Regions from separate parts of the Homo sapiens genome. Here all the other regions are linked to region 1. The links come from fine-mapping of genetic effects on gene expression. A gene starts in region 1. Each other region holds a variant in brackets. All regions are shown on one strand. Distances are between the middles of the regions.

Region 1 (10,552 bases):
AGCTCGGCTCTGAAGGTCTGCCGCATGGTCCTCCACTCAGCCTTGTCACCCTCACACTCCTGATGAACGGTCTCCACTATCAGGTACATGATGTTGAGCAGGACCCTGAGGACAAGAGCCAGCTCACAATGGAGTGGGATGGGGGGGTCAAAGGAGCACCCTAGTGTCTAACAAAGTGCTTACACAAAGCAGGGGCTTACTATTAATAAATGGTATCTGAATAAATGAGTATGAACAAGAATGGCCAAAAGCATTTACCACCCTAAGCTTCCTGAAAAGAAAAAAACCACAGAGGTGGTAGCGAGCTGTAGGGTCAAAGCAGAACAGGGTCACAGTGAGAACAAAAACAGGGTTTATGATGAGGAAATGGAAAGCAGGAGCTGAGAGGTGACGCCCAGGGATCCTAACACCCGGGAGGCAACACTACAACCACCTAGTCTAAAAACTTCCAAATTCATAAAAAGAGCCAGATTTCAACCCTCAAAAACTGAGGGGTGATCTTGGTGGTCAGCAGTTGCTGTGAGCTCCTGGGCAGCCATGAAACATTAGGAAGCTGTCAGGTCTAACCCAATGAAGATGAGCATCAAGCTGTGTACACAAGAAGGTGGGAGTCCAGGGAACACCATCAAGTGTTTCATCCAAATACAAAATACCCCACGACCAGGTCCTGAGTAACAGTGTGAGTAGGAGGCCACACTTAGCTGTGGCTCTAGTAAGTCACTTGACCCTGGATTGCCTTTGGGAGTCTCAACCCAGAGTCCCACCTAGGACGAGCCCTCAGCAGTTCCTACTAATCATTCACACTGAGCCCATCACACATGCAGATGATGTGTACAGAAGCACACACAGCAATGACACCCACAGACAGCCTCCCACACCCTGCTCTGATCTCATCTCTGACTAACGCTCAGGAGCCCAGGCTTGCTGCTCGCCTCACCTGAGGTCTGTGCTGTCAGCCAGGGAGATGGCAGGCTTCCTCACAGCACTGCTGCAGGCGGCACTGTTGCTGCAGGAGATTTTGAGAGTCAGCATCTTCCTCCAAGAAGGAAGATAAGTGATGTCCCTGACAAGTACTGACCAATGGGGAAACAAAATGCTGTGATACGTGCTTGGACTGCACAAGAGGCCACAGGACACGGTGGTTAAGAAACCAGACCATGGCTGGGCATGGTGGCTCATGCCTGTAATCCCAGTACTTCGGGAGGCCGAGGCGGGTGGATCACCTGAGGTCAAGAGTTTGAGACCAGCCTGGCCAACATGGCGAAACCCCATCTCTACTAAAAATACAAAAATTAGCTGGGTGTGGTGGCAGGCACCTGTAAACCCAGCTACTCAGAAGGCTGAGGCAGGAGAATAGCTTGAAGCCGGGAGGTGGAGGTTGCAATGAGCCAAGTTCACGCCATATCACTCCAGCCTGGGCAACAGAACAAGACTCTCTCTCAAAAACAAAAACAAAAACAAAAAAAACACAAAAACAAAAACAAAAAACCCAGCCATGCACTGGACTGCCACGGTTTGAATCCTGGCTCTAACTGCGCCTTAGTTTCCTCATCTGTAAAATGGGGATGACAGTAGTACCTATATCCTTAACATGAATTAGCACATGTAATATTCTGAGAACAATGCCCGGGACACACAGGCACTCAATGAGCTGTCTTAGCTTTATCATTGATGGTGTTATCCTTAGATGAGCAGCAGCTGACCTGTCCACTGGACAAAGGTGACACAGGCAAGGCCAGGCACTGGTTGAGCCCATATGTCAGTCTTGTGCCTGGCCTCCTGCCAAGGCGGAAACTGCAGGGCGAACACAGCAGTGTCTGCAGGTTCAAAAGAGAGCTCAAAGTGAAGAGTCTCCTTCTGAGGAGCACCCCAGGCCTGGGCAGGGCCTGCACTGTCTGGTGTAAAAACTCTGGCATCAGGGAGCTGCAGGGACCTGTCATTAGTCTCCATTAATCTTCAAGGTGTAAGTGACCAACTCCGTTATTCAACCCAGGTGGTCAGAACACAGCCTGGGACCAGAACTTCTGCCCCATTTAACCCTCTCAAAGCCAGTTAGTTCTGCAAGCTCTGTCCCCCTTCCCATCCCAGCCTCCCCTTCCCTACTCAGCCTCTCAAAAATGCTCACTCTATTTCCATGTTCAGAAGCTCCACCAAAGCATTGAACGTGCCCACCTCCAGGAGGAGAAAGATGTTGTAGCGCATCCAGGACTGCACCTCTGCCTCCGAGCTGCACTCCCCAAACGTGCCTGCAATGCAGGGTTCAACTCACTGAGCCCCTCCCTGCATCTGAGTGGGCAGAGGTGCCAGGGAACCCTGGGGAGGTCCACTCAATACCTTGAGCAACATAGAGAATTGCTCGAGCCACCTTGAGTCTCTTCTCCCTGGCAGTGACTTCCAAGCCATCCAGGAGCCTCATGGCATGGGTCCGGTGCTGGTTGGTATCCAGCTCAGTCCACTTCTTGTCTGTCACTGCAGGGCAAGAAACCAGTTACACCTGAGCCTAGAAAAATCCTCACAATGGCATGGACCCATGTTAACTCACCAAATTCAGGACTGCCATAGGACCAGAAAGATAAGTTACACCCTATGTAAGTGGTAAGATCATACTGCTGCTCTATGAATTTGATTCCAAACTGAAACGCTGGTATTTTGGGTGCAATTTTAATCACATGATTTTTTTTTCTCCCCTAATATGCACATTCTGAAAAGCCCCCACCGATGTGCCACAAGCCCACTCTACATGTATCTGGCTTTGAACCATCAGGGTTCAGCAGGCTTCTCAGGCTGTTCCAGGATGACTCAGGTCATTCAGATGCCTAAAAGAAACCTGCAGCTCTCGTTATGCAGGGCAAAGGAAGCAAGAAGTGTGGGAAATCATCTCACCATGGATCCGGAAGTCCTCCTCAAAGCATTTTCGATTCATCAGGAATTCTGGCCCTTCCGTGTAGCTGTAAAGCTCTGTCAGAACAAAGTCTCGTCACCATTGGTTCCATGTCTGCATTGCACACCAGGTCTCACAAGTGCAGAGAAGGCAAGGCATTTGCTTCCACTCTCAACTCTGCCCCTGAGTCATAGTGACTCCTGGAATAAGCTCTCTAATTATGAAGGGGATCTTAGTGCTCTGATGTGCACAATAGAGACAACCAGAGTGCCAGAATGCCATCTGGACACTTCCAGTCCGATGTGCATCCATCCCACCATGCCATGCCAGGGCTGACGGCCACCTGGGATGCATCTCTCAAATGGCTGCTACCTCTTGAGCAGGATGTGTATTGTAGAGGCTGGAGAAGCAGCTCACACCGACCTCGCATTACATGAGAGTGGCAGTGGCAGCAGCAGATGGGCACAGATGCAGGCATCCCTCATGACCCATTGCTGGAGGAGAGACCACTGTCAGGGTCACAGTGGATAGCCAAGGAACATCACTGTCTCACAATGGGACTGGGCTCTAGCCAGCTTCATAAAAGTAAAGGACAACACAAAGTTATAAGATACACAAGGCTTGAATCAAATAACATGTTTTATACATATATATATATATATATATATATATATATATATATATATATTTGATAGAACTAGGGAAAGCAATGAAGCCCTAAATGATATTCATTATTAATTTTATTAAAGACCAATAAGGAAAAAACCACCCCCAAATAACACAAAGGTCTGTGCGTTACCCGAGAGCTCTGCAGCCCACTTGTCTGTGTCAGCATACTCAAACTCCAGGTCTGGTGACTCCGAATAGCCCTGCTGACAAGAGGAGAGAGCTTTAGGAAAAAGGATCATTCTATTTATCAAAGAAACTCATGCTTCGAGATGCTGTTGTGTTACAGGACACCACTGCCTCCACTTTTTTATGTTTTTTCACATTTTGTTTCCTAAAACCTCTCAGAGTATCCTATACTTTTCCTTCAGAGCATTTATCATAACTTATCATTATAGGATGTGTTTACTGTCTGCCTTTCCACAAGACTGTAAGTTCCCTGAGAACAAGAACATCATCCATTTAACTTACCAATGATTTCACAAGGTCCAGCATGGTACCTGGCATGAATAAGTGAATGAATGAATGGTCTATACACACATATTTGTTAAATGAATAAATACAAGGTTTCTATGTATTTTGTGCAGTAAATGACCATTCCATATGATGCTATGATTCCAGAAGTCTTAACTTCTTTCTGGCTAGTGGACTGTCAACAGCTCAGGACAAAAATGAGTATTGAAACCCTCAGCTTTCCCACCTTTGTCTCAAATTTCAGTGAGAACTGACAAAGAAGGCAGCCGCCAAACAGATCAACTTCCCTCCCACACATAAGAGAAAATGTGACAAAGACAATCTTTTTCCTGCTGGAAATAGGTGATTACTGAGAACACACCATCTTGGAAGCCTTGTACTGGGAAGAGAGAAGTGAGAAACAAATAGGTAAAGTCCTTAGGTTTAATTACAGTCTACCTGGGAAGACAAAGACCAGCCACAAAATGACACAACATACCCACAATGGCCAGGCGAGGTGGCTCATGCCTATAATCCCAGCACTTTGGGAGGCCGAGGTGGGCGGGTCATTTGAGGTCAGGACTTTGAAACCAGCCTGGCCAACATGGTAAAACCCCGTCTCTAATAAAAATATAAAATTTTTTAAAAATATATTTTTACATGGTGGGGCGTGCCTGTAGTCCCAGCTACTCGGGAGGCTAAGGCAGGAGAATCGCTTGAGCCCCGGAAGTGGAGGTTGCAGTGAGCCAAGATCGCGCCACTACACTCCAGCTTGGGAGACAGACAGAGACTCTGTCTCAAAACAAAACAAAACAAAACAAAAAACATACCCACAAACAAGAACTCCACGTTGTGTTCAGAGATAACACAGTGTACACTTTCACAAGTTACTGAGCTTCGGTTTCTTCATTCATTGAATGGCAATGATGAAAATCTACTTTGAAGATTTTTAAGGACTAATCAAAATTATGTAGTACATAGTGGGCTCTCATCAAATGTGAGCCTCCCTGTCCTCCAGGCATTCACTGATCAGGCTCCCAAACTACCGATTTCAGCTATGACTAAAGAAAGATCATGGCATCAGACTCTCTATAAAGAAATGGATTTAGACAGGTCTCTGCTTAAATGTGTCCATTTGACTGGTCTTTCATGTAATGAGTCTATGAGGAAATTTTTTTTTTTGAGACGGGGAGAGTTTCGCTCTTGTCACCCAGGCTGGAGTGCAATGGTGCAATCTCGGCTCACTGCAAATCTCCACCTCCCAGGTTCAAGCAATTCTCCTGTCTCAGGCTCCTGAGTAGCTGGGATTACAGGCACCAGCCACCACGCCCGGCTAATTTTTGTATTTTTAGTAGAGACAGGGTTTGATCACATTGGCCAGGCTGGACAGGAACTCCTGACCTCAGGTGATCCGCCCGCCTCGGCCTCCCCAAGTGCTGGGATTACAGGCGTGAGCCACTGCACCCGGCCTCTATGTGGAAATTAAAGGGTACAAAGAGAAATTACAATTCGTCAGAGGGTATCTATTTGACCATTCGTAGCTACTCTGGAAAATTTTAAACCATTTTTCAAAATGATAACTCCTCTCATGATGAAGGTAGGTTCACCCCCCTGCACTTTCGTAATCTTCCACTTGAAAAACTGAGTAGTTAACACTGATGTCCGTCATCCCACCATGCCAGGGCTCCTAAATGGTCAGTGTTTTTGTTTTTTTCAAATAATTCACTCCAAGCTCAAATTACGTCTACTTCGGGCTTGCCAATTGTTGACATGTTTTCTCAGGGGTTTAGCCTTGCTAACAAAAAATAAAAGCTTCTGAGGAACTGATTCCACAGGTCTAAAGGTAGTATCATTGCTCTTTGGTATGAATTGGTACATTATGCTTGGACAACTAGGAATTCCCTCTCATTAACTTGGCTGATCAGTTTGGCTGCTGATCAATCTAGGAGATGGCATAGTAAGTGCTCTGGGAACCTGCTCATTAAGAAGCCCTAAAACTCCGCGACATGAGTATCTTCATTCATGAATTCTGCAAAAGGAGGCAGTGGGAGGAATTCCTTAACTTGGGGTGAGGTTACTAGTCAGTTCCAGACTATGCCATCTCCAGAACGGCAGGAACGGCTCACTAGCGAGACAGGAAGGAATGTTGGGTCCTAACGCATGCTTAAAATGTCTATTTCTCATCTTTAACAGTTCAGTATCAGGCGCACTGGGCACAATAGCCCACCACAGGTACTGTTAACCCATGGCCTGATCTGGCTCAGGTCAGAAGAACAGGACATGTTTCCCCCTCCTACTCTACTCTCAATGATAATTAGCTCGGTCCGGCTCTAAGTTCCTTCCAGATCCTCGCCGGCGCCTTCCCTGCCCACACGCGCCTTCCTCTGCGAGCGGCAGGACCCAGGAGCTGGAGCCCGCGTGCCAGGGACAGACGCCCGAGATGATTAGGTTGGGGGCGCGGCAGCCCAGCGCCCTGGAGTGCACCAAGACCCCCGACTCCTCACCCCCGAGCTGGGGCGAGAGCGGCTTCCCCAGGGGCTAGGGCCTCGAGGCCACGCCCACAGTCGGGGCCCAGGGGAGCAAACCAGCAGTCGCCGGCCACGGGAAGCTCTCCCGGGCGGCGGAGCTAGAGCAAGGACTCATGCTCCAGACCCCAGGAGCTGCCAGCCTCGCTTCCTGCTCCTTTCGCTGTATAGTGACAGTTCTCGGCCGGACTCTACCGAGCCCTCCGGGAAGCCCAACCTGGCCCCTAGAGTGGCCCCGGGCCCGGGACCCCCGGCGCCGCCCGACCCGGTGCGAGCCTCGCCCCCCGAAGCTCCTGACCTCTGAGTCTTTGCGCTGGTTGCGGTTGAACTCGCGGGCTTTGCCCCCAGGCAGGAGGCCCGCGGCGGCCCGCGGTGCCCCGGGTGGTGGCTGTGCGGCTGCCGGCGGCGGAGGTGGCGGGGGCTGGGGCTGTTTGTTGTTCACGATCAGTGGGCCCGGACCGCCGACTGCCGGCTCCATCTTGGCTGCTCCACACCCCCAGCTTAACTCGCGCACAGCCGCCGTGATGCAACTCTCGCGTGATTTTCTCCAGGAAATTTCCCTGGCCGCCATATTAAGTGTGGCGGCCAGTGTTAGAAGCCATCTTGGCTGACCAATACCTCGCGATATTCTGTCTGCAGTCCTTCCCTTGTTGATCTTTTTAGTTTTCCACCTTCCTTTCAGTTTCAGTTTAGATGTAATTTTATCTGTGAGGCTTCCCTTAGCTTCTTCAGTCAGTTTAGTTACCCCTCCTTCCTCTAAATCGCTTTGCACTTATAACTCATAGCCTTGTTCAAGGCTTAGGCGGAATTTTGTAATGAACAAAATGGATAGGATCCTAGTCTTCACAGAGTTACCGTTGTGACAAGTGCTTGTCATTCATTCATTCAACAAACATTTAATAAATGTCTCCTGTGCACCAAGCAGTGGGATAAAATGAGGAACAAGTGTCTGCAGTCACGGTACATAACAGTGCTTGGTGGGTCAGACAAACAATAGACAAATATAGAGAAATAAATGCTGAAAAGTGTTAAAGGAAAATTTGTTCATGGCACTAATTAAAGATGGTAAGGCAGACTTTATGTAAGAGAGCCCATGGTGATAGTTACAGGGACCACTACAACCAGATCTTGCAGTGAAGAAGAGGAATTAGACTCAACTCTGACTCCAACAAGATATAGTGGGGATTTATAACCAAAGAGCAGGATGAGGGTCAGTGGACGGAAAACTACTAAGAGAAACATCAAGGATAAGAAGTTTCTTGCTAAACTGACCTAACAGGATTATTGCTGAAAGCAGGACAGGGTGCTAAGATGTTGAGGGTGGTCAGATACCGAGTGCTATGGTTTGACTGTGTCCCCCAAATTCCATACGTTGGAAACTCAATCCTAAAGTTCATATGTTGATGGTATTTGGAGGTGGAGCCTTGAGGGGGTGATTAGGATTAGATAAAATCGTCAGGGTAGGGCCCCTGTGATGGGACTGGTGGCTTTATAAGAAGAGGAAGAGTGATCTGAGCTGGCACACATGCTCTTGCTTTCTCACCGTGAGAGGCTCTCTACCATGCAGTTTAAGAAAGCCCTCACCAAATGCAACCCCTCGACTTTGGGCTCCCCAGACTCCAGAACTGCAAAAAATAACTTTCTTTCCTTTATGAATTACCCAGTGTTTTGTATTCTGTTATAGCAACAAAAAATGGATTAAGACGCCAAGAGTGGAGAGTCCCTGCACAAACTGGATTCAACAAGGACAGAAAGGAAGCCCAAACGGTTAGTCCTAGTAGGCAGAGGACTCACAGGAGCCTGACTAGAGTTTTGGCCAAAGAAGAGAATCTTTGTCAGAAGTAACAAAAATTGAGAGGTTAAAAGGTGGCAGTGGGGCGGGGGGCAGGGGTTGGTGGAGGCGGAGAATGTGGCTATAATATAAGCATGCTGCCCAAGGAAGGCAGGCCTGAGGGTGTGATTTTAGATGAGTTCTGAAAGAAGTGAGGAGAAGCCCTGCAAAGTTCCAGGAAGGGCACACAGACAGATGAAACAGCTAAATGCAAAAGCCCTGATGTTAGTGTCTGGAATTGAGTGAGCCAAGGGAGGGATAGTAATTGATAGAGCCATATAATGATAATGCAGGGACCAGAAGAATGCAGGGCCTTGAAGGTAGTGGGAAGGAGTTTGAATTTTATTCTAAGTGAAATGGAAAACCATTCGAGGGTGTTAACCAGGGAGATGTTATGGTGTGATGTTTACAAGTTCAATCTGGCTGCTTTTGGAGAAGGGATTGGAGAGTTGCAAGAGTGGATAAGGCAAGACATGTTAGGGGACCATGTAGATGGAGATGATGGTGCTTGTACCAGAGTGGAGCATTGGGTTGATATTTCTATATTGTGTAGGTAGGGGGACAGGATTTGCTGGAATCTTATCAGCTGGGTAGGGGAAATAAACAATGACCCCCTTGATCTAGGTTTGGGCAACTGAGTGGATGGCTGTATCACTTTCATAAATAAGTAAGCTCGAGAGTAAGAAAAACAGGTTTAGAGGAAAGATCAAGACTTCAGTTTTGGACACATCAAGTTTGAGATACTCATCAGACATCTTAGAAGTGTTGCGTAATAATAACTCTTACTATTATCTGTTGTTATACTGTGAAATCCTTAAAGGCATTTTATCCATCTTTGTCTCTCCAGCTTTACATATTGCCTGCTTTACACCCCAGGCTCAAGTCCAGAAAGTCCCTGTGATACAACTCTCCAGTGATTTCCCCTGAGGTCCAACCTAGTAGGTGCTTAAAAAGTCTTTGTTGTAAATTAATAAATTAATCCAAAACCACCACACTGCTATTTCCTCCTACCTATCTTCCTGTGCCTATCATAAGCTGTATCACCCGGGGAAAAACATTTTTCAGCTAAATTTAGAACAGGGAGGGTTTTGGTTCCATAATTCCACTTCTAGTAATAGATTCTAAGGAAATAATCAGATTTAGATAAAGATAGGTGTATGATAATATTCAGGCAATGGTGTTTTCAATAGTGTAAAGTTGGGATCAACCTAATTTGAAAAATAGCCAATAAGAAAATGGCTAACTTTGAGGGGCCAGGCACCGTGGCTCATGCCTGTAATCTCAGCACTTTGGGAAGTTGAGGTGGGAGGATCGTTTGAGCCCAGGAATTTGAGACCAGCCTGGGCAACAGAGCGAGACCCTATCTCTAAAAAAAAAAAAAAAAATCAAATTAAAAAAATTTTTGAAAAAGAAAAATGGCTAACTAATGGAATGGGGCATGCATAAGACAGAATATACAGATCTAGAAGGAAAAAGAATCCCAAATGTGAAGGAGCAGAAGCACAGCTGGAGAGCTCACTACTCTAACTTGCTAGGAAACTTTGCGAAAAGCACAATCCAGTAGAGAGTAGAAGCTGTAGAAGTGTCTTCATGCACTTCTCTTTTTTTTTTCCTTCCCCATCTGTAAAATGAGAATAATCCCACCTGTATTTTTGTCAGAGATGTGTGAACCACAGCAACTCCATCTTGAACAGGGGCTGGGTAAAATGAGGCTGAGACCTACTGGGCTGCATTCCCAGGATATTAGAGCATTCTTAGTCACAGGATGAGATACGAGGTCAGCACAAGATACAGGTCATAAAGAACCTGCTGACAAAACAGTTTGCAGTAAAGAAGCCAGCCCAAACCCACCAAAATCAATATGGTGATGAGAGTGACCTCTTGTCCTCCTCACTTTTACACTCCCACCAGCACCATGACAGTTTACAAATGCCATGGCAACACCAGAATGTTATCCCAGATGGTCTAAAAGGGGGAGGCATGAATAATCCACCCGTTGTTTAGCATATAATCAAGAAATAAGCATAAAAATGGGCAACCAGCAGCCCTCGGAGCTGCTCTGCCTGTGGAGCAGCCATTCTTTTATACCTTCACTTTCATAATAAACTTACTTTCACTTTACCCTATGGACTTGCTCTGAATTCTTTCTTGTGAGAGATCTAAGAGCCCTCTCTTGGGGTCTGGATTGAGACCCTT
Region 2 (10,552 bases), 33 kb before region 1:
CTTTTGGGTTCCCAAACCCAGAATTTTTATATGAATCAATTTAGGATTTCAGTATCTAAACAGGACAAAGGTAATACCAACTGTCTTTCCTTTGAAGGAAAAAAAGCAACTGAGTTTTCCCTGTTGGAAGGAAATTTTGTGTATGTCAAGCAAATCTCAGATCTGAGGTTACCTCTTTCTCATCGTCCCTATCCCTTCTGGAAATCCACTGGGGGAAAAAGAAGCACATGTCCTTCCTGTGGTGCAGGCTGAGGGAAGCAGAGAATGAAACGGAAAGTGGTGCTGGGGCTGATGTTTCCCTAAATGAAGAACTGACCTTACAGTTGAGGCCCAGAGCCAGGAACTCTTCTCACAAGACCAGATTCTATTCTAATTCACAGCCAAATGAGGATGATTTTCTTCAACGTGGATGAGACACTTCCATTCCAGCAAAGTGTAAGCACTGTGAAGGCAGGGATCACATGTCGTGTGTGCCACTATATCCTGGTACCAGCAAATGGGGATCACATGGTAGGCTCTCCTGTTAAATGAATGAATTAAACATTCAGCTGGTGTAAAACAGCTAGTAAGTATCATTTCCATTTAAAACGTAGCTCTTCTTAGCAGATGGAGAGGGGTTTTGTTCAGTTTTTTCATTACAGGGCCTGGAATTATCTGGATCTCGCCATCCACTCATCTCTTACTCCATGGACAATTTTTCAGTGACAAATGCTGTTATAATTCAGTTGGTTATTAAACAGCACAAATGGTGAATTCACAAATTCCCTTAAAATTCTGCCCCACATCTGGCTGCATTGGTCATAAACCTCTCAAGTGTTAAGCACTCTGTTTCATTTGGTCTCAGCTTAGCAGAAACCACCCTCTACCTACTGTATCAGTGGCCGCAGCTAGGCATACGAGTCTCAACAGATGCCATTTGCTGATCATGAAGGCAGCAGTGCAATGTCCCCAGGCCACTCTGGCCTCAGCCTTCCTTTCTGGAAGGAGTCCCAGCCTTCCCACTGGGAAAATGAGGGTGCACAGTGAATGATTTCAGCTTCGTTAACTGAAGAAGGACTGAGGAGTCGTGTGGAGTGGGGGACCGCGGATCTGAGTGTAAATTCTGGTTCTGGCACTAACTGGCTGTGTCTACCTGAACAAATGGCTCCCTCCTGGCCTCAGGCTCCTTCTCTAGAAAACAGGGTACCTATTTCACAGAGCTGTGAAGATTAAATAAACCAATCTTAGACAGGCATGGTGGCACATGCCTGTAATCCCAGCTATTCGGGAGGCTGAGGCAGGAGAATCACTTGAACCTGGGAGGTGGAGGTTGCAGTGAGCTGAGATCATGGCCACTGTGCTCCACCCTGGGCAACTGAGTGAGACTCTATCTAAAAAAAATAAAATAAAATAAAAATTAATAAACCAATGTACGTAGAATACATGAGCTAGCACCCAGCACACTGTAGGTATACGTAAGTGTTAGCTGTTGTTTTTACCTATAATATGAGGGCCTTTGTGACACTCCATGATCTCCCAGCCCCCCTAAGAAGGAAAATTTATTAACTCTGAGATTGCTGTTTTTGAGGTTTCTATGCACCTGCTCCATCAAACTCTTTCCGGACCACATACAGATAGATAAAAGTTTACACAAACGGCTTAAAAGACAAGTGGAAAAGTCTCCTCCCCGTGTGCTGATTTGTGTGGTTCTGGAAGAAAACTCTCCCAGGAAGGTCAACTCCACTTACCCACAAAACTCTCATGTAATCTAGGGTTTTCTCTCTCCTCAGTTTAATTGGTAACACCATCCCAGTATGGAAATTGGCTCTGTTCAGAGAGTGGGAGAATGTCAAGAGAAATTTCTGGGCTTGAAAGTGGATGCAGGTCCCTGTGTCTCTCTGCTCAGCTCCAGCCTTAGGCCCATTCACTCTGAAGTCAGGAGCCTTTCACCTATTCAGTGATGGAACCCACTGGAGATGGTAATCACCATCATCATCAGCATCTATTAAATTAACACAGTGCATCAAAACACGAATGCTTTGCAAATACCCTACTTCCATGTGTGGCCCACCTTTCTGATGAGGAAACTGAGGCTCAGCAAGGTTGTCATGGGAGGCAGAAGACTCAGCCTTTGATCCAGGCTGCCTTGTTTAAATTGTTGGTGACATTTTCCTGGGTGATATTTTCATCCTCCATAGTAAACTTCTTGATAACTGTTGAATAGAATAGGTATCCTAAATTGATGTCCTCCTAGAAAGTCAACAATATCCAATTTCGCAGGTATGGGGAAGAGAGAAAAGAAAACAATATCCAATCAACAACTATTGAAAAACCTTATTAATGGGCAAAGGTGATCGGTTCAAATTGGTTGCCCAGAGCTGGATCCACTAGATCCTGGAGAAAGGATCCCTCTGGTGAGGCCAGAAGGGAAGCTTAATTTCAAGCCGAGCCTCCCTCTTGACTAGAAATACCAGCCCCAGGTGCTCCCATCTCTCTGGCCAGTCTGCATTCCGTGATTAGGGGCCCTAATGGCCATAATGCCTCCAAGGTGGTGTTGAAACCAATAAGTCTTCAGAGAAGTTATGGTATGTTTAATAACGGCTTAATGACTCCTTGTGAGATGCAAGGCTTCTGGTTCCTGTTTGGTCTTGATTTACAGCCCAACTCTGGCTGAGGAGCCAAGAAACCCCTTCTAAGCCCCCAGCGGAAGAGGGAGGTGTTCACACCAGGCCTCTTGGATTCCTTTAAAAATTGAGAATTCAAATGAAATACAAATGATGTTTGACTCCCCACCTCTCTTGCTAGTCTCCGGGGGCATTGATAATAAAAACAGTTTAACGCAGCCCCACGGGCTCCTCAATCCATGGGAAGTGAGCAGGGTCCTCGGGTCCTTGGGTATTTCTCCCCAGATCTTAGGTAGGGTGGTGGTTATTTCTCTTTTCTGAAATTCTAAGCTACTGCTCTAATCCTGTCTCCTTTTGGTTGGGGAGACTCAGCTCTTAGAAGATGCAGTTCTACCCTCATCCCTTCTGAATCGTCAGGCCTGGGGGAGCACAGCCCTGAGGTCCGAGCTGCAGACAGTCTCTCCAGTGGGTCCCCAGACACTTGGGTCATCTGCCCACTGAAACGCATTCACTCCAAGCTGCTGCCAGAGGAAACACCAGCCCTTCTGCTCATCCTCCACCTGTTCCAAAGGCTGCCCCTGCAGGACACTGTTCAGTCCTGAGCTGCCCATGGGAGTCTCCCTGTCTGCTCTGGCCCTGTCTCTACTTCTGAAACACACCTCAAATACATAGAAAGACCCAGGGTTGGCTTGGCCCGACCTCCACAGTCAGATGAGGACACTAATGATTGGCGCAAGGAACCATAGCTAATTAATGATAGTGTCCAGGTCCAAGCTCCCCAGCACCCCATTCCCAGCTTAGATCTGCTTCCACACAACACTCCCAATAGCTCCTTTCACTGTGAGAAACAAGAGATCTCTAAGGGAGGTGTTTTTTGCTGAGGCAACATTTTGTCCAGCTCCTAGCGGAGACCTAAGTAAAACTGCAGCCTAAGGCCTGCCTGTCTGCCCGCCCAGGCCCTCATCCCAGGCTGATGTCCAGAGTCCAGGCCCAAAAGTGTTTGGGGGGGATGCCCACACGGCCTCACCCCTCTAGGGGCAAGTGCCTCTAGGCTGGATATCAGGACCACGGGTGCTGCTCTGAGCAAGAGACTCACCTGGATGGGTAGACAAAGGGATCCTGCCCTAGAGAGGAAGCTGCTTCATCCTCTCCTGAGCTGCCTGGGACTGGGCTCTGGGTGAATGGGGGGAGGGGGTTCCCGGGCTCCGAGGGGTTAACCCGCACGGGGCCACACGTGACGTGGATGGTTCCAGCATTAAGTCAGAGGCGCGGCCCCCTCCCCTGCCCCCCGCCCCCCGCCCCCCGCGGCGCGCGCCGCTCCCGGGGGCTCCGCGCCCCCGCGCCCAGGTCCCTCCCCCTTGGCGGGCGCTCACAGGCGGCGCGGGCAGCGCGAGCCCCGGAGCCCCGGAGGCCTGTGCGCCCTGAGCCGGCATGGACCCCGAGCACTGCGCGCCTTTCCGCGTGGGGCCTGCACCCGGCCCCTATGTGGCCTCGGGGGACGAGCCTCCGGGCCCGCAGGGAACCCCCGCCGCTGCGCCTCACCTGCACCCCGCGCCGCCCCGCGGCCCGCGGCTGACCCGCTTTCCGGCCTGCGGGCCCCTGGAGCCCTACCTCCCAGAGCCGGCCAAGCCGCCCGCCAAGTACCTGCAGGACCTCGGGCCCGGCCCGGCCCTCAACGGCGGCCACTTCTACGAGGGCCCCGCGGAAGGTAACGCGCGGCGCGGGGCGTAGCGCGCAGCCCGACCCTCTCTTCTTCTTCCTTACCCGGGCCCACCCGGGCCTTCCTGCTTATCTCTCCCGCTCGCCTATTTCTCAACTTTTTGCCCCTCTCGCCTTTCGCCACGGCTTCCACGGAAGCCGGGTTGGCGCTGGCCCGGGCCAGGCAAAGGCCAGTGTGGGGCGGGAGGGTGAACCACCGTTCCTCGGCGGCGGGAATGGAAGGCGGGAGGTCGAGGGAAGGTGCAGTGGCGACGGCCCGGAGTCCAGTCGGGGCCCGAAAGCAGTTGGACCTGGGAAGGAGAGAGCATGCTCTGCCGAAGTTGGACTGGAACTGCCACCTACCCTGAAGCCCAGACCCGGCCGAGGGCTGTGGAGCCACACTGAGACCTGACGAAGAAGCGCGGCTTTTGTGTCTGGCGCCCTTTGAGGGCCCTGAGGCTGGGCCTCAACCTAGAGTGGTCAAATCGGGGTCGGCTGGGGACTGCGGCCTGGTCTTGGCCCGTCTCTCCTCCCCGGGCCTAGCCTTCACAGGAAGGGTGCTGCCTGTGCGGCAGACTGGCACAGTCTGGCCGCGACTGGTCGTGCAATGCCAGGGCTGTCCTCAAGACGGAATAACTGTATTCTTATTTCTCATACTAAGCTGGCCTCCCTGCCGTTATGCACTATGATAGCCGCCCTTCTGGCAGTCTTGGCTTCCCCGCGCTGGATCATCACCGCTGGGCAGTCAGGAGCAGCCCTGGGCAGCCTAACCCCCTGGCGCCGCGGGCTCACGGGCCGGTGCCCTGTGCTAAGGCCGGCTGGACCGCGCCGGCATCCGAGAATGCGCCTGAAGGCAGGGGCCTGGCAGGCTGATCGGCAGCTCTGCGGCCGTCCGCCGCACCCTATGACCTGTAAGGCGTCTCGGCTTCCGCACTGCACCCACCTTATCTGCGCTGCCATATCCCGCAGCCTAGGCCCAGAACTGGATCCTCCAAGATCCGCCTCAACCCCCTGCCGCCGCCCGGCTGGCGCCTCGCGGGCCTCCACGGAGTGGCCGGGCATCTCCGGCTTTCGCCCAGCC[G/A]GGGCGGTGGGAATGTGTAGGGGAGGGCGGGGAGGTGTGTGTGGGTCAACGGAGGAAATGAACGAGTCCGCGGAGCTTCGTGTCTGTGCCCTTTGAAAGAGGCTTTCCTGATAAAAACCACAGTTGGGACTTAATGAGAAGCAGTTGGCCTGGCTCCTCTGATCCCAGCCAGACGGCAGAGGCCGCGCAGTGCGGTGAGCACCGCCAGAGACAGGTACCCGGCCTGGCTCAGCGCTCCGCGTCGGGCAGGAGCCACCCCCCCAGGCCCGCGTCCCTGCTAGGCGCGCCGCATCCGGCACCGACAGCTCGGGCCCCCGGACCACACCGGTGCCGCGCGAACTGCAGAGAGCGCTGGTGCGGAACGAGCGGCCGGGAGAAACCCAGCACCCCGGGATCCGACGGCAAGGGTGGCCTTGACAACGAAATACCGAGAAAGAAAACCAAAGAAAGCGAGCGACAACCAAGAAAAGGGGAAGGGAAATTGAACAAAACAACGGAGAGCGCGGCGAGAACGAGAGGGTAAATGGCAGTCGGCGAGCTGGGATGAACTAAAATGAATAAATGAGGAACGAACGAATAAAAAAAGCAGGAGCAAGATCGAACGAAACGGATAACTAGAGAAGGGGGAAAGGACAAAGAGGGAGGGAGCAGACTAAACAAAAGAAAACGGAGCATGTTTAAAGCGTAGAATATATCAAAATGAGAACAAGGGGGTAAGAAAATTAACGATTTCAGTTGAACGGAGGACAGGCCAAACGAAAGGGAGGCAGGCGGGTGCGAGCAGAGCCTGGTAGAGATCCTGGCGGCCGCTAGCCTCTGGCGCTCTTGCCGGTGTTCAACGGGCTGCCAGCGTCCCTGCGGCAGAGCGGACCTCGGCGCAGCGCGGCGCGCGGTGGAGCCTGGCTGCTTGAGGACAGTCAGCCCCCAGGGCCGCACAGCCTACTTGGTGGGAAGTGGCGGGCGAAGAGGGAACCCGCCTTATTTCCCGGTTTTTAAAATAACCGGCTCGGAGCGTTTCCAGTCCACACGAGTGAGCGCGCAGCTGCGCCCCATCTGCGGCGCGATCTTTCACGAGGCTGGGCAGTTGCGCGCCCCAGAGCCTGGCGCACCTCGCTCTTCTCCCGCCTGCAGTCCGCCGCCCGCGCAGCCCCAGGCCGCCCTTTGCTGAGAGCGCCCAGCCTTGCTCTGAACCCAGGCTGCGTGCTGGCGCTGCCAGCCACTCTCGCGCCGTCCGCGCTTGGCTAGTCTGTCCCGAGTTTGGCTCTGACGTCGAAACACGCCCTCGGCAAGAGACTCCTACTAGAGTTTTGCCCGCTGCCGCTGAGGCCCTGAGCCGGATGACCCGGCCGATCGCCAAAGTCGAGGAGAGTCCCAAGTTCTTAGACCCGGGCTGAGGCTTCTGGGCCAACGCTGAGAACCCCCAAGAAGGGCACCGAGGCCTCACCGGGGTCCTGCCCACGGCGTTTATGTCCACTCTGGCTTTGAGTCTTCGGCGGGAGCTGCAGGAGCCTGGGCCTCAGCGAGTTCTGCAGGTCGCTTAGTGACCCCACAGTGGCCGGAGGAAACAGTGCGGCGCGGGACAAGGCTGCAGCGAAATGTGAAAGCCAAGGCTGGTCCCGCGGTCTCAATGGATGCCTTCTGTGGGGACAGTGGAGCACTCGGGCCTGCTGCGGCGCTGCTTCCTGGCTGCACAGTGGCTTAGAAGCAGCCGCTGGTAGGGGCTCTGGCACTCCTCCGGGTGAGGGGTGCTCAGGGTACGGCAGGCCTGAGAGCTGGGTCAGGGACAGAGAGCTCCTTTACTACGTTAAAAGGCTCCTGGCTTTCACGCCCAACAGCTGCTGCTGTGGCCCTGCGGTTATGCAGGCAGAAGACACCCCAGCGTTGTCTCAGGCTGTCTCCAACATGAGTACCCCGCCTTAACCACCTAGTGTCCGGATCAGGTGCAGTGACTCCTCTGCACAATCCATACACACCTCAGATGTGCCCCGTGCTCAGCAGAGCAGCCCTCACTCCTTTACAAGCTTAGGTTCAAGCTGCTGGCTGCTATTCCTGGCCTGTCTTTCCTGGCTTCTGCCTTCCATTTGTCCCAGTTCTATCCCTTTCCTCTTCTGGGCCTTGCTCCTCAGGAGGCTGCTCTGTGTTCTCTGAGGAGTGCCCCTCTCCCAAAGTGGAGGGATGCCACCCTCCCTCTGGTGTTCTCCAGGTAGATCAAGGAGGTTTCAGGGCAATGACAATGAGGAGAGCAGTTCCGTGGTCCCTTGAGAGGGCTGTAGACTGGGCAGGCATGGGAGTTGGGCATAGGTCAGCAGGCTTAGCCTCTTCTTTGGGGAAGCTGCTCTGAGAAGTCCTACTGCACTTTCATCCCTTGTCCCTGGCAGCTTGGTGGCTCAAGGTCGGGAACGCAAGTCTCAGGGCCCCAGATCTGGTCCCTTCTTCTGGGCAGGTCCTATTGAGACCCAAGAGGCAGATGAGCAAGCCCCAGGGCTTTGGAGGGCCTCTGCCAGGATGTCAGTACTCTTGAACCCCAGCCCTGACCCTCAGCCCTGAGCTACCCTCACCCCTTTTCTGCCTGGAGTCCAGCACAGCCTCCCTACAAACACAAGACACCAAGACTCTTTCTTCTCAGGCTGAACATTTCCATGGCCTGCTGTGTGTATGCATGTGGTGGGGGTGGCGGGGGCGGGGGGGGGGGATGTCCCATTCCAGTGTCCCTAGTCTTCCTATCATTTTCAATTATTTGGTTCAACTTCTGTGAGTCTTCCTTCCTAAGCTTCTATCAAATGGAACTGCCTCTAAACCTGAAATGTGCTGGCCCAAGAATGGAAGTCAGAGACTGGAACACTTTCTCCCCTGTGCTCCACCTGAGTTGTGAAGGAGCCCTGGTCCCTGGGCTGTAGCTGTGGGCTACCTGTGTACAGGCCTGTGTACAGGCTGGGCATGGTCCAAGGCTAGGTAGCCCTGCTCGACTCTCCCAGTCCTCCAGGACACACACCAGGAGCTTATCTCATGGCCTGGGTAGTCCTGGAAAGTAACTGACCACCTTCCAGCTGAGGAGGACCCTGCCCCATTTGTCCTTCACAGTGCAGACAGGGACTCACCAGACCCAGATCCTGAGAGGCCCATTTGTCCAGTCCCATCCTCCCCCAACCACAGCTGTGATCCTGACACCAAGTCCTGGGAAGACACTGCCTCTTGTGCCAGCTAGCTGGGCCTCCTCAGGGCCAGGCCTCCACTGGAGATGGGCCCAGAGCCAGGCAAGAGGCTGTGTGAGTCAGTGGGGCGTCTTTGTGGCGTCTCAGCTGCCATCCCAGTGGACTGTTGAGGAGGGATTTCATGGGGACACCGCTGGGGGTCCTTGCCAGAGGGAGAGGGTGTGGGCAATCAGAGTGACCTATTTTTCACCATGCTCTGTCGGTCGATCCACCATGGTGAGGCTCCGCCAAGCTTCTGGAGTAGGGGTTAGCATGTCAGAGTGGGGCTGCTGGAAACTGTTCCAGTCTGTAATCAAGTCCTTCCCTGCCTGTTAAACACAGGCAATGGGGGAGCAGTTAGAAACTCCTGAGGAAGGAGGGGGTGGTCAATGATGGGAATGATGGGGACAGGGGCTGTGCCCTGTTGTGACACTGGTCCCCAACTCTCCTTCTTTGAGCACAGCCTATCTCAGCTCTGCTTCTCTATTGCTGGAGCTTAAGTCCTTGCCCAGATACCACAATTTTAGGAGGAATGGAGAGAAGCAATCCCTCTGGAAGCTTCTTTGTCCCATCTTGCCCTTCTTACACCAGAGCTGGGGAATTTGATATTGACCTGAGACCTGGGGTTCAGAGAATAAAGCTCAGCCAGACCAGCCAAAGGTGGTCTGAGCACCCACGTCCACAGCCTGCCTGGCCCTGGGAACAGAGGCGTGGGCATAAGGGCCTGGGAACCAAGGCCTGCAGAGTTAGGAACAAGGAAGCACTTTCTGGCAGGAGCAGGAGATGTCAACCACCCCATCCTCACCCCGCCCTCTGCCCCCATTCTTGGCCTTGCCAGGGTGGTGGTCCTGCTGTGGCGCCAGTCCTCTCACGTCCCTGTGGAACGCACCACCACAGAGCACTTCCCCGAAATGAACCCCACTCTGGCCCCAGCAGATCCGCCCAGACCACAGAGCACATAGTTCCCCAGGGCCCCCTCCCCAGCTGGAGGCTCAGCAGGCAGGCCTCTAAATGCCAGGCTCCCATGGAGGGTGGCTGCCAGGAGGAAGGGAAGGGAAAGGAAGGGGGAGGCGGAGACTGAGGCGTCAATGTTCTTCCCCCTCCCTCCATTCCAACCCACAAAAGCCCCTGGTTCAGTTGCCATCCTCCCTTTTGTGTTCTCCATTGCAGCTGAGGAGAAGACCTCCAAAGCTGCCAGCTTCCCCCAGCTGCCCTTGGACTGCCGAGGGGGCCCCAGAGACGGGCCCTCTAACTTGCAAGGCTCCCCAGGCCCCTGCCTGGCCAGCCTGCATCTTCCTCTTTCCCCGGGACTCCCTGACTCCATGGAGTTGGCCAAGAACAAGAGCAAGAAGCGTCGTAACCGCACGACCTTCAGCACATTCCAGCTGGAGGAGCTGGAGAAGGTCTTCCAGAAAACCCACTATCCTGATGTGTATGCCCGGGAGCAGCTGGCCCTGCGCACAGACCTGACTGAGGCCCGGGTACAGGTGAGGGCACTGCAAGGATGGGGCTCTCTGGCTGCCCCTATCACACAGTGACCAGAAAGTGATCTGGAAGGGCTGGGAGAGGTGGGCACTGGTGCCTCCCAGAGCTACCTTTCCCAGGGGCCTGCACCAGCCTTCCCCTCCTGGGCTCACCCTCATGCCCAGCTCTGCTGCAGCCACAGGCTCTTCTGGTCCAAATTGAAGCTTATGCCTGGGTATAAGGGCGATGGCCTCTGGAAGCCATCACCTGTGTGGGAGTCCTAAAGTCTACCACTTACTGGAGGTGATTTGGGGTATGTTAATAGATCTCTCAGTCTCAGTTTCCCAGTTCAGGAAAAGGGAATGATGGGACTGGCTGCGTAGGGACTATCCTGAGGATCACAGGGATGGCCGCATTTTGGAAGCGGTGAAGTGCTGAACACACATCAGGGCTGCTCCTGAGGTGGCTGCCTAGAATGGGAGGGTCCCTGTCAGGAGGTCTCAGGGTTAGTGATT
Region 3 (5,000 bases), 53 kb before region 1:
TTCCTGTTTAAGAAAGCAAACCTGAGACTAAAAGGCTTCCACAGGCATCTCTAGCTACAATATAACATTACTATGTTTCATGTATTTTTATAGCTACTCTGTTAATAATGACTGTTAATAACTACTGGTGTTCCATTTATAGTAAGGATGTAAATTTTCCTTTAAAAAGATGTGTGTGTGTGTGTGTGTCTGTGCATGAGTTAAAGAAAAATGTTAATGATACAAGTGACACTCAGATGTGGCAAAAATCATGAAAATTACTCAAGTCACTAAAGTCTGAAAAACACAGCTCTAAAAGATGCTAAAACAAAAATATGAGCTCTGCCTGAAATCCCAGCACTGGAAGGCCGAGGCAGGCAGACTGCTTGAGCCCAGGAGTTCGAGACCAGCCTGGGAAACAAAGTGAGAACCCCGTCTCTACAAAAAATACAAAACATAGCCAGGCATGGTGGCACGTTCCTGTAGTCCCAGCCACTCAGGAGGCTGAGGTGGGAGGATTGTTTGAGCCTGGGAGATGGAGGCTGCAGTAAGCCAAGATTGTGCCACTGCACTCCAGCCTGGGCAACAGAGTGAGACCTTGTCTCAAATATATGTGTGTGTGTGTGTGTGTGTATATGTGTGTATATATATGTATACACACATATATATACACATATATATATGAGCTCTGAGCCTCATATTCATATACAAATCTCATAATCACTCAAGCCACCCTAAGACCAAGGATGGAACATCCCCCTTCCCTTCACAGCTCCCTGCAGGCTGCAGGTGGATAACTTGCCCTCTTCCAGGCCACTTTGGGATTTGCCGTGCAGGGATTTCACCAAAGGGAAAAGTTCTCTGATAATTCTTACCATCTCAAGGCCACAAAATTGATGTTGTTAGCAATGGTATCCCTCTAAATGCTGCAAATCCATGAAATGACTTCTGAATCAGCAAAGATTACTGATTACTCTTTTAAAGAATAGCTGCAACTGATCACATTCTGACGGGAGTAGAAGTTCTGGACAGCAGTGTTCCCAGATGGTGCACTCTGCAAAAATGAGTGGGTTTTGGCACGTTTCAGTGCCTGGCCTAGGGCCGACCCTGAGGGGTCTCTGAGTCTTAGGTGGTCCACACACAGAATTGCCTGCCAGAGTCAGATGAGTGCACCCGTGTGGGGTCCACAGACACAAGCAGAGACAAAAGCTCCGGAGGAATGAGGTCAGGAGATAATCAGATGCGACTCCTGCGGCCTCTCCAGGACCCTGTGGAAGCCCCCACAGCCCTTCTCAGGAGACCTTTTGGCCCAGCAATGTTATACCAAAAGTAGGAAGTGTGGGTTCTGGGTTCTCAGCACCTCCAGCTGCAGCTGGGCTGAGGAAGGCACAGCTGTCCTGCCTAAGGCTGTGTCTCTTGTGAAGGAGAAACATCCGGTCAATTCCATCAAGAATGTCAGTCAAAATCCCAGGGAGGGATCAGTCAGCTCAGCCCTCCTATCCAGCCAGCTTTTGTGCCCTGGGAGCAGGCCCCTGGACTGTCCTCAGCCAAGACAGGAGAGGCCCATCTCCCAAGGGCTATGGCCTTGCTGCCCCTCATCCCACACTCCTCTCCCACCTAAAGCTTCGGGCTGGTAGCCTGCAAGTGAGCAGGGGTTGATGCAGTGGTGCACAGGCCCCCGCAGGATATGACCCAGGATGTGAGGACCCGCAGGCTGGAGGAGAGATATGCAGAGGTGAAAGGGCAAACCTGTTTCCAGTCTCCTTATCAGGAGTAGCCGAGTGAAAGGGAAGTGGCAGCCCCGGAGGTCAGGCTGGGGGGTTGTGGCTGGGGCAAGGCTAGGCTAGGTCTCCTGAGAGGAGACCCCGCTGGGCAGGGAAGAAAGAGAAAGGGGGTGTGGAGGAAGGGCCAGGGAGGGAAAGGGCTGGGAGCACTGACTGTATGGCCCATTCCCAAGGGGAGGAGCAGCAGGGTGACCAGCCACCCAGGCTTGCCCCAGACTGAGAAGCCTCCCAGGACACAGAAGTTCCCATTAAATACTGGGATGGTTGGTCACCCAGGAAGCAGCCCTGGCTAGGGGACTGTCAGAACCCAGCCACCTGCACCCCCTCCAGAGTCCCAGGCTCAACCACCACCTTGTCTCAATGCCTTCTTACTTCTCCCCCTTAGTTATTCATTCAGCAAACATTAACAAAATGCCTACTGTGTGTCAGGCCTGCTGCCAGGCTCTGGGAATTCAGCAGTGAAACGACAGGCATGCTCTCTGCTATCCCAGAGCTTGGAGATTATGCTTCCTTCAAAGCCACAAGGGACACTTACTCCCCTGCTGCCTGCCCCACCAGCCCATCCCCCGGGGCATGTTTCTAGGGAGCCCTCCCTCAACAGTCTTAGGTGGTCCACACACAGAACTGCCTGCCAGAGTCAGATGAGAGCACCCGTGTGGGGTCCACAGACACACGTGGGGATGGTGTCTAAATCACTGTCCCACCTGCCATGGTGCCTTGCATAGGGCCCTGTGCAGGGAGGTGCTTAATACATGTCTTTTGGTTGAGGAGCTAAGGTGTTGAGGGCCAGCTGGAGATGGGGGTCCCTCGGTCACCTGTCAATGCTCGCAGCCTCCCGCCACCACTGCCAGCACCCACCCATATGCGCAGGGCACGCCTCATTGTCAAGCAGCATTCTCCCTGCCCCAGCACAGTGGGGCTGACCTGTCCTCTCCTCAGCTGGGGAAAGTAGGCAGGCCTGTGGGCAGACCCCAGTCTAGCGTGGGGGTGGGGGTCCCCAGGATGGAGGAGTGGGACAGGAGCTGGTTTGTCTTCCCTGAGCAGAGAGGCCTTGGCCTTGGGCTCCAGCATCCTGTTCCCTCAGAGGTCCCACATGAAGAGAAGCCACAAGAGTCAATATGCCTCATGTGTGCCTGGGGGCTTCTTGCGGAGGCAGAGCCAAGCCTAGGCTCCTTCGGCCTCGGTCCTTGCCAG[T/G]GGAGAAGCCAGTGGGGACCCTGGGCAGAAGCTAAGTAGGTGAAACACACAGAGACGTGCTGTGGGGGCAAGGAAGTGGAGCAGTGCTGGAAGAGACTTGGGGTTCCAGCTACAACTCCAACAGACTCCTCTCCCCAGTTAAGGAGTAGGGGATTGTATCATTGAAGCCACTGAGGGACCATAAGCTTCTTGCAGGTGGGGGCCACAGGGCAGTGCTTACAGTAAGCTCTCCACCCTTTATGTGGAAAATAAGCCTGGCCCTCAGACAGCAGAGCCCCATGTTTCTGTCCTGCACCCTGGTGGCGTTTTATCATATTGCAACTCATGGGATATTACAGAAGAGGGAGTATGAGCTCAGCCCAGTGGACGCCCGTCTTTGGGGTCTGGCTTTGAGATATCATTAGGATGGGATTCCTGAGTGTTCTGGGAATAGCTGGAACCCAGCCACTCCCAACCAGCTGGGGCGTGGGAGAAAAGAGCAGGACTCGGGAAGACCATGCCAGAGAAAAGGGTAGCATGCGATCCGGTACACTCTCTATCCACAGGCCACAGACACACAGGAAAGGCACAGAAGACACCCTGGGACAGGGTAGGGGGACGTGGTGGAGGGCGGGAGGGGTAAATGGAAACTCAGGTGTCCAGAATTGGATTATGGCTTAATCATAGTCTTTGGTTACTGACAGGCTCTCAATCTTTCGTTAAGTATTCACTTAGGTAGTTTTCATAGTGCACAGGCGCCTGTGAACCAGGCATTATTCACTTAGCTTTCATAGTGCACAGGTGCCTGTGAACCAGGCATTATTCACTTAGTTTTCATAATGCACAGGTGCCCGTGAACCAGTGATTATTCACTTAGGTAGTTTTCATAGTGCACAGGCGCCCGTGAAGCAGGGATTATTCACTTAGTTTTCATAATGCACAGGCCCCTGTGAACCAGAGATTATTCATTTAGTTTTCATAGTGCACAGGTGCCTGTGAACCAGGGATTATTCACTTAGTTTTCATAATGCACAGGTGCCTGTGAACCAGGGATTATTCACTTAGTTTTCATACTGCACAGGTGCCTGTGAACCAGAGATTATTCACTTAGTTTTCATACTGCACAGGTGCCTGTGAACCAGAGATTATTCACTTAGTTTTCATACTGCACAGGTGCCTGTGAACCAGGGCTTTTCCTTCTTTCACTCTCTCTCTGCCACAAAACCACCCTTTTCGTCCAAAGGAAACTCCTCATGGAAACCCAGTACATGAAAAATGAAAAAGTGAAACTGGTCTGGCTGAAGTGGAGGTGGGGCCTGCCCACTGTCTACTTGGCCTCCCCGTCCACTGCCCCAGCAGCCCTGACTAGCCCCTGGCAGATTTGTGGAATGCGATCTACACCATCAGGAGCCAGGAAGGCAGGAATCTGTTTCCTCCATTCCTATGCCCAGTGACCAACACGTGCCCAGTTTGGTTACTCATTTCAACAAATGTTGGGTGAAATGTACTGAAGGAGATGAACTTGTTCCAACCACCACTCAGGTCAGGTTTGGGGAGGGGGCACTAGAAAGTGTCTCTGCCTCAGGATATCCTCCCCATCAGCCTACCACAGTGTCTAACATTCCCCATCACCATGCAGCCTAACCCTGCATGTCCTTCAGGACCCAGAGCAAACACTACTTCCTCCACACAGCTTTCTCAGATGTCTCCAGCCAGAGTCATCTCATTGCCCTTGAACGCTGTAGCCACTTGTTTATCTCTCTCTCTCCTGCATCCTTCACACTCACTCAGGCTTCTGCCTAAGTTCCTGACATACATGTCTCATTTCCCCAGTGGTGTAGACACTGCACAGCTCCAGGGTGGGAGATGTTTAACTGACTTTGGCATCCATCTCAGTGCCTTCCCATAGTAACGTTCCATAAATGTTTGAGGAAGAAAGAAAGGTCTTCTGGTGCTCCTTAGGACGCCGCTGTGTCTCCAGGAGAGCAGCTGGAACCAATTTGACCTACTATGACATTAGCATGAAGTTTATATACTGCAAACTGTCACCATGCAGAAAGAATA

Direction of the effects. Alleles are on the strand shown, and positions count from the first base shown. SD is a standard deviation of normalised expression in the study named. Not every link is listed here.
In carriers of allele G in region 3, the expression in gastroesophageal junction of the gene that starts at base 7,017 in region 1 tends to be higher than with T alone (moderate effect, 0.58 SD a copy in GTEx).

What was found. PIP is the estimated chance that this variant, and not a neighbour inherited with it, causes the effect. A credible set is the group of variants that fine-mapping cannot tell apart.
Region 2: its variant is the best candidate, but not a certain one, in a credible set for the expression of STRIP1 in whole blood (INTERVAL, PIP 0.73).
Region 3: its variant is the best candidate, but not a certain one, in a credible set for the expression of STRIP1 in gastroesophageal junction (GTEx, PIP 0.70).

Annotation. Positions count from the first base shown.
Region 1 is chr1:110,031,089-110,041,640 of GRCh38, reverse strand. It overlaps STRIP1 (striatin interacting protein 1), which reads right to left and starts at 7,017. Exons shown (of 21, transcript NM_033088.4): 1 at 6,824-7,017; 2 at 3,681-3,750; 3 at 2,884-2,958; 4 at 2,335-2,469; 5 at 2,126-2,246; 6 at 938-1,006; 7 at 1-105. The coding sequence starts at 7,003. LOC105378895 (a long non-coding RNA gene) reads left to right here and starts at 6,202. Exons shown (of 3, transcript XR_947693.3): 1 at 6,202-6,232; 2 at 8,210-8,292; 3 at 9,204-9,345. RefSeq lists silencers at 6,423-6,492, 6,733-6,952 and enhancers at 6,953-7,342, 10,355-10,494.
Region 2 is chr1:110,064,095-110,074,646 of GRCh38, reverse strand. ALX3 (ALX homeobox 3) reads left to right here and starts at 3,975. Exons shown (of 4, transcript NM_006492.3): 1 at 3,975-4,311; 2 at 9,744-10,060. The coding sequence starts at 4,035. The variant G/A (reference allele first, on the strand shown) is at 5,383.
Region 3 is chr1:110,086,512-110,091,511 of GRCh38, reverse strand. The region is part of intron 1 of LINC01397 (long intergenic non-protein coding RNA 1397); the gene reads right to left. Among named protein-coding and RNA genes, the nearest start is that of LINC01397, 6.3 kb to the right of the region's middle. The variant T/G (reference allele first, on the strand shown) is at 2,958.